2 separate regions of the Homo sapiens genome follow, and region 2 is linked to region 1. Evidence: fine-mapped expression QTL. A gene starts in region 1. The other region holds a variant in brackets. All regions are shown on one strand. Distances are from middle to middle. Region 1 holds the start of DPYSL4 (dihydropyrimidinase like 4). Region 2 overlaps JAKMIP3 (Janus kinase and microtubule interacting protein 3).

What was found. PIP is the estimated chance that this variant, and not a neighbour inherited with it, causes the effect.
Region 2: its variant is fine-mapped to the expression of DPYSL4 in lymphoblastoid cells (GEUVADIS, PIP 0.95).

What each region holds. Positions count from the first base shown.
Region 1 is chr10:132,185,335-132,188,228 of GRCh38, reverse strand. It overlaps DPYSL4 (dihydropyrimidinase like 4), which reads right to left and starts at 1,281. Exons shown (of 14, transcript NM_006426.3): 1 at 1,127-1,281. The coding sequence starts at 1,165. It overlaps JAKMIP3-AS1 (JAKMIP3 antisense RNA 1), which reads left to right and starts at 1,477. Exons shown (of 4, transcript NR_184044.1): 1 at 1,477-2,894. RefSeq lists an enhancer at 61-562.
Region 2 is chr10:132,152,869-132,155,762 of GRCh38, reverse strand. JAKMIP3 (Janus kinase and microtubule interacting protein 3) reads right to left here. Exons shown (of 24, transcript NM_001323087.2): 17 at 2,740-2,805; 18 at 1,936-2,004; 19 at 1,773-1,850. Among named protein-coding and RNA genes, the nearest start is that of JAKMIP3-AS1, 32 kb to the left of the region's middle. The variant A/G (reference allele first, on the strand shown) is at 1,485.

The sequences.
Region 1 (2,894 bases):
TCCCGGGAAGCAGCTGCCCCTCCGCACTGACATGGTTGCCTGACCTCCCCTGGGAAGGGGTCCTCCTGCCACCCCCAAACTCGACCCCCACATGCCAGCTGACTGGCAAGACCTCCTGCATCAAGACCAGACCCAGCCGGGCAGAACCCTCTGGAGGCAGCAGCCCCTCCCATCTGGAGAGGGGAGGGCTCCTTCCTCGCTCAGAGTCTGGGGGAGTGGAGCCCACAGCCCACGGCTCGAGCTAATGCCAGAGGTCAGACCCCACGGCCCTCCCGCCGAGGCCAAGTCCAGAGTCGGGTCTGGGACCCCATGGACTCCCCCGCCCAGGTCCTGCCGGGTCCCGAAGCCTCCTTCCTCCCACCCCCATCTCCCCCCGCCCGAGCGGGGAGGCTTTGTTTCTGGCAGAGCGGGACCTCCCGCGCCGGTGCGTGTGGGTGTTGGGGAGGGGTCTCTGCTCTCGAAGGTTCAGGGGCTGCCAGGGTTCCCGGCCAGTGGCCCTTGACCGCTCGCTTTCCTTGGAGTCGCTGAACCCAGGTTACTGGAAGGGTTCGGGGCCACCAGGGACTCCGGCCAGAGCGGCCGGGGCTAAATCGCTTTGTCTCGGACAAAGAGCTCCCGACGCAGCGCCAGTGCGTCCAAGGGGCGGGCGACCCACGGGCTGCGCCGGGAACGGCATCTCCCCGCGCCCCGGACCAGCCCGGGCCAACAAAGGGCCGCGTCCGCCCGCCTCGCCACCCGACCGCCGTGGGAGAAAGGAGCCGCTAGCGCTCCGAGGGACAGGCCGCCCGGCCCCGGGTTCTCCCCGGGCGCAGCCGAGGCTCCCGGAAGCCGGCAAGGCCGGGCAAGGCCGGGCAGGGCCCGGCAGGGCCCGGCAGGGCCGGGCAGGGCCGGGCCGGGCCGGGCCTGGGCGCCCCGCTCCTTAAGGGGGTCTGCGCGGCGCTAGCGGGGACTCTCGGACCCTGGGGCGCGAAGGAGCCGAGCAGGGAAGGGCGGGCGCCAGGACAGGGACCAGACGCAAAGGCAGGGACCCCCCACCCACGCACAAGACCAGGAGGGTCCGCCCGGCGTCCAGGCCCCACTCCGGGCGGCGGGCAGGGGGCGCCGGGCGAAGCGGGACCGGGCTCACCGTGATCCGGGGGATGCTTTTCTTGCCCTGGAAGGACATCCTGCTCCTGGGGGTCTCTGGTAGGGGCGGCACAAGCGGGGGCGGGCGGGCGGGCGGGCGGGCGGGGGGACGCGTGAGCCGGGACGCGTGCGTGGGGACGGCGGGAGACAGACTGCGAGCGCGCGGGGCCGCACGGCTCCGTTCCGGTCCCGCCCCCGCTGGGCCCCGCCCCCACCCCGGCTCCGCCCCCGGCAGGCCCCGCCCCCGATAGGGCCCGCCCCAGCCCGAGCCCCGCCTCACCCCGCCCATCAGCCCCGCCCCCGCCCTCAGCCACTCCTTCGCTTTAAAGCCCCCCCAGCGCTGGAACCGCTGCAGGGTCTGATCTCTGCACCCCGGGCCCCCGCGCAGACCCGCGGACGAGCGCTGGGTGGGGATTTCAACCTGCTCCAGCTGATGTGCGCGGGGTTTGCACCCCGGGGAGGCGAGGGAGAGAGTCCGGCCACGTCCTGCCAGGCCCCGCCCGCGCCCCCGCTGCCCTCCAGCGCGGAACCCAGGTCCCAGGAGACGCGAGGCGCCCAAGGCCCCGGGATTCCGAGCCAGTCAACCCCGGGCCGCGACGCTCTGGGAACCACACCCGTCCAGGAAGGCACCTTGGCCAAAGCCGGCTCCTTCGCAGATGACCCGGGCCAGGGTCCGAGCGCCAGGCTGTGACCCCGCGAGGCTGTTCCACGCTGGCCGCGAGAGACGGAGGGCAGGAGGGGCCCGAATAGGACAGAGAGAGAGAGAGAGAGAGACAGAAGGAGGCGCACGCGCTCCCCAGGGACCGGGACGCGGTGGTGGGCGGGACCTCGCGGGGGTGGGGGGTGGTCGCAGGACCCAGAAGGCTCAGGACCTTTACGGATAGGGAGGACCCCGCAGGGGGGAGCGGGGGAGCCCCACGCCCGGCGTCCTCCGGGTGCGAGGGTCTCGGGGAGTCCGAGCCCGGGCCCACGGCCTCTGTCCCGCGGCCACTACCTGCTGGGGGTCCCGGGCCTGGGCCACGCCGGGCTGCCCTCGGGGACTTGCTGCGGCCGTTGAGGGGTCTCCGCGCGCCGCGCAGACTCGCCTCCCAACCCGAGGGCCCGGGCGGCCGCCGCCCAGAGCGTCCAGCGGCAGCGTCTTGCTCTCGAAGGCGTCCTCCACGCAGCGGAACACGCAGCCAAGCTTGGGCCGGGCCAGAGGCCTCGCGGGCTCCTGAGGCTGCCGCGCGGTCACGGCAGGAGCGGGCGACAGAATCCGGTCTCGGAGCCTCCTGTAGCGAGGTCTGCGCGGCAGGTGCACTGGGCGGACCTGGAGGCCGCGCCCTCCCCCCCCGCCTCCTGCCGCCCGGCAGCGCTGCGCGGAGCTGGCTCTGTCCACGTAGCGGGTGCTGAACGCCCCATTCTGGCCCCTGGGTGCTCGCTTAGTCCCGGCCACGCGTGGCTGCTCGCCCTCGGGACACACTGGGCGCTGGGAAGGCCGGGCGGGGAGCGCGCACCGGAGAAACCGCTGTGGGAATCCCGGCCACATTTCCAGGCCCCTTGGGCCGTCCCACGCCAGACAAGAAAGCCCTGACTCCGAAACCCTGGGCGAGTGTGGAGGGCGCGCGGGGGTGGGGTGTACCCGCCCACGCAAACTGCTGCTGATCTCCCTTAAAGCCGAGTTAGAGGCTTGGGGCGAGACAGGAGTGACGGGCGATGCTGTCACTCCATCTGTCATTCTACCCAGCCTGCAGCAGCTGAATTCGAACCCAGAGACTTCAGGCCTTTGC
Region 2 (2,894 bases), 32 kb after region 1:
GCACACTGCTGGTCAGCAATAGTGACACTAACCATAGCAACAGGAGGGCCATTACCAGTTTAGCCAGGGCCAGCCTCCATGCCCAGCATCTTACAGGAACTCCCAATCCCTAGTGGTTACCAGCTGAGCTGGGCCTCAAACCCAGGTCATCTGCCTCCAAAGCCTCCCATGGCTCACACACTGGCTTCCACAGCAACTGACATGGGCCTTACACCCCCACCCAGGATGCTAGGTGCCTGGTGTGGCTGTTCTTTGCTCTGTAGGCTTCTGCGTTTGAGCCCTGGCCCCTCTGTGTGAGGAACTCACATCCACAAGTGCAGGAAGGAGAGATGCCTAGTGCAGCAGTCATGGCTGTGGGCACAGGAGAAGAATGCTGACATTCGACTCCTGCCTTCATTCTGACTGCGTGTCCTTGGGCAGGTCACCAGCTTCTGTGCCTGGCTGGCCAGACCAGTGCCTGCCACATAGGAAAGGCTCTTGAGTAGGCTGTCATTATAACACTATCATTACCATCCTCATCACCACCACCACCATCATCACCATCATCATTGATCACTATTGTCACCATCATGATCACCATCATCACCACCACTACCACCACTGTCATGATCATCACCACCATATCACCACCATCACCATCATCATGACCATCATCGCCACCATCATCATCACTACCTCCAGCAGCATCACCATTACCACTACTACCACCATGTCATCATGATCATTGCCATCATCATCACCATAACCATTATCATCATCATCATAATCACCATCATCCCCATCATGATCACCATCATGATAACCATTATCACCATCATAATCACCATCATCACCATCCCACTACCACCACCGTCATCATGATCACGATCATCACCATCATCATCACCACCACTATCACCACCATCACCACCACCACCGCCACCACCATCACCATTGCCATTGCCAGCACAATCATCACCACCACCATTGTCATCATCACCATTATCATCACTATCACTCTGAGAGTTCCCAGGCTGAACTTGGCCCCAGGAATGAGCATTTTCATCCCAGCCCACTTTCCCTTGCTTTGAGTAGCCAAGCAGGTCTCCTCACAGGCATGAGGGTCAAGACCCTGCCTGCTGGGCTGGGTCCCGAGGTGAACCTCTTGGTGGTGACACTTGTCTTTCCACAACATGGCCTGATATCCTCCTGGTCGTACCTTCCGTCACGTGATAGGAGTCCAGCAGGGACAGATGATTTTGCTTGTGCAGTCACGGGGGAAGTAGCTCCCAGCGGGGAACCCAGTTCTGAAGCCTAGTTTTCAACCTAGAAACGTCCTATGCTCCTCCCAGCCACACCAGATGAAATAGAACAAGACCACACCTCCCACTAGTGAGCAGGCTGTTGTCCCAGAACAGCCACCAGTTTCTCCAGTTCCTCAGGGGAAGGGTGGGAGGTAGACACCAGCCCACACCAACACCTGGATGGCCTTCAGGAATCCGGGC[A/G]TGTTTCTGTGCTTGAGTGACCTGCACAAAGGCTGTAGAACATTCTCACTGCACAGTGTGGGTTTAGGCCTCCTCAACTAATCCTGCTCCGTTTATGAAGCTCCAAGTGAAGACCCCATCAGGCAGCTCTGGAGAGCCAGAGCCTGCTGTGCAGGTGTCATTAGGGGCCATTAGGGGCCCTGCGACCTGGCCCACATGGGCACCTGAGGCACTGCTGGGCACCTGAGCCACGTGGCCGTTTCAGCCCAGTGCCCCTCCCCGGGGTTCCAGCAGTCTCGTGCCTCTCACCTTGTTGGCCTGGTCCAAGGCCTGTTTCCGGTAGTCCAGCTCCTCGTCCAGGTAGCCCTTCTGCTTACTGAACAGCTCCTGAAACACAGGAGGGCCATGCCTCGGTCTCGGATGTCCCACCTGCAGCACCGAGCCGCAGAACCTCGGTGAAGGTGCCACCAACCTTCTCGCTCTCCAGATCCACCATCTTCCGCTGCAGCGCCGCCTCTGTCTCCTCAATCTGCTGGAGCCACTGGACACAAACAGAACAAGCAGGACAGTGACCCCTAGGGTCCCCCACCCCGGCTCGTGGAGACAGCTGGGAGAAAAGCCAGGACAGCCTGGGTCTTCCTTCCTCTTCTCCTTAGGGAGGGGAGAGCACAGCCCTCTCCAGGGAGTTGAGGCTGCGCTGGCATCATGGCCCCACCCCTCCCACCCTCCAGGTGTCCAGGAAGTCTACCCCTGACACCTTCTCCAGGAGAGGAGGGACACTAGCTTGGGGCACCGTAGGAGAGACACATCTGCAGAGCTCTGCCAGGACAGGCGGGGAGGGGTGGCCTGTTTCTCCAAACCCCTATGTGCCAGGAGCACCCCTTCTCCTTGCTGTGGGAGGCCCAGCTCACCAGGCAGGTCAGGGCTAGGGGTGGGACTAGGAGCAGGTAGTGGGCTGGGTGGCCCCAGAAGGGGGTCAGGGTAAGTTGAACAGAGAACGCTGCCTGCAGACTCACCATACCTTCCCGCCTTTGGGAGGAAACGCAGACAGGGTTGGTGACAGAGCAAAGTGGAGCCGAATCTGTCCTTTGCAAAGATGCACAGTGGGTGCTGTCTGACCTGAGTGTGTCAGATCTCCCAGGGCAGACGGGGCTTAGTGGACCCCCCAAACCCGGCCCTGCAGGCCCTCCTCCCGAGATCACCACCTCTGAGCTGAGCAGGGCAGGAGACCCCAGGAGCCCGGCCCTCTCCCGACTGTCCACACAGCTGCTGTTACCTTTTCGGCCAAGGTCAGGACTGTCCTGGCTTGTATGACAACCACCTGCTCCTCATTGGTCAGGTTCTGCACCCAAAAGCAGAACACAGGTGCGGTCAGAAGCAGTGCCTTTGGGGGTGAGGGTGAGTGATGGATGCATGGGGAAGCTGACTGGG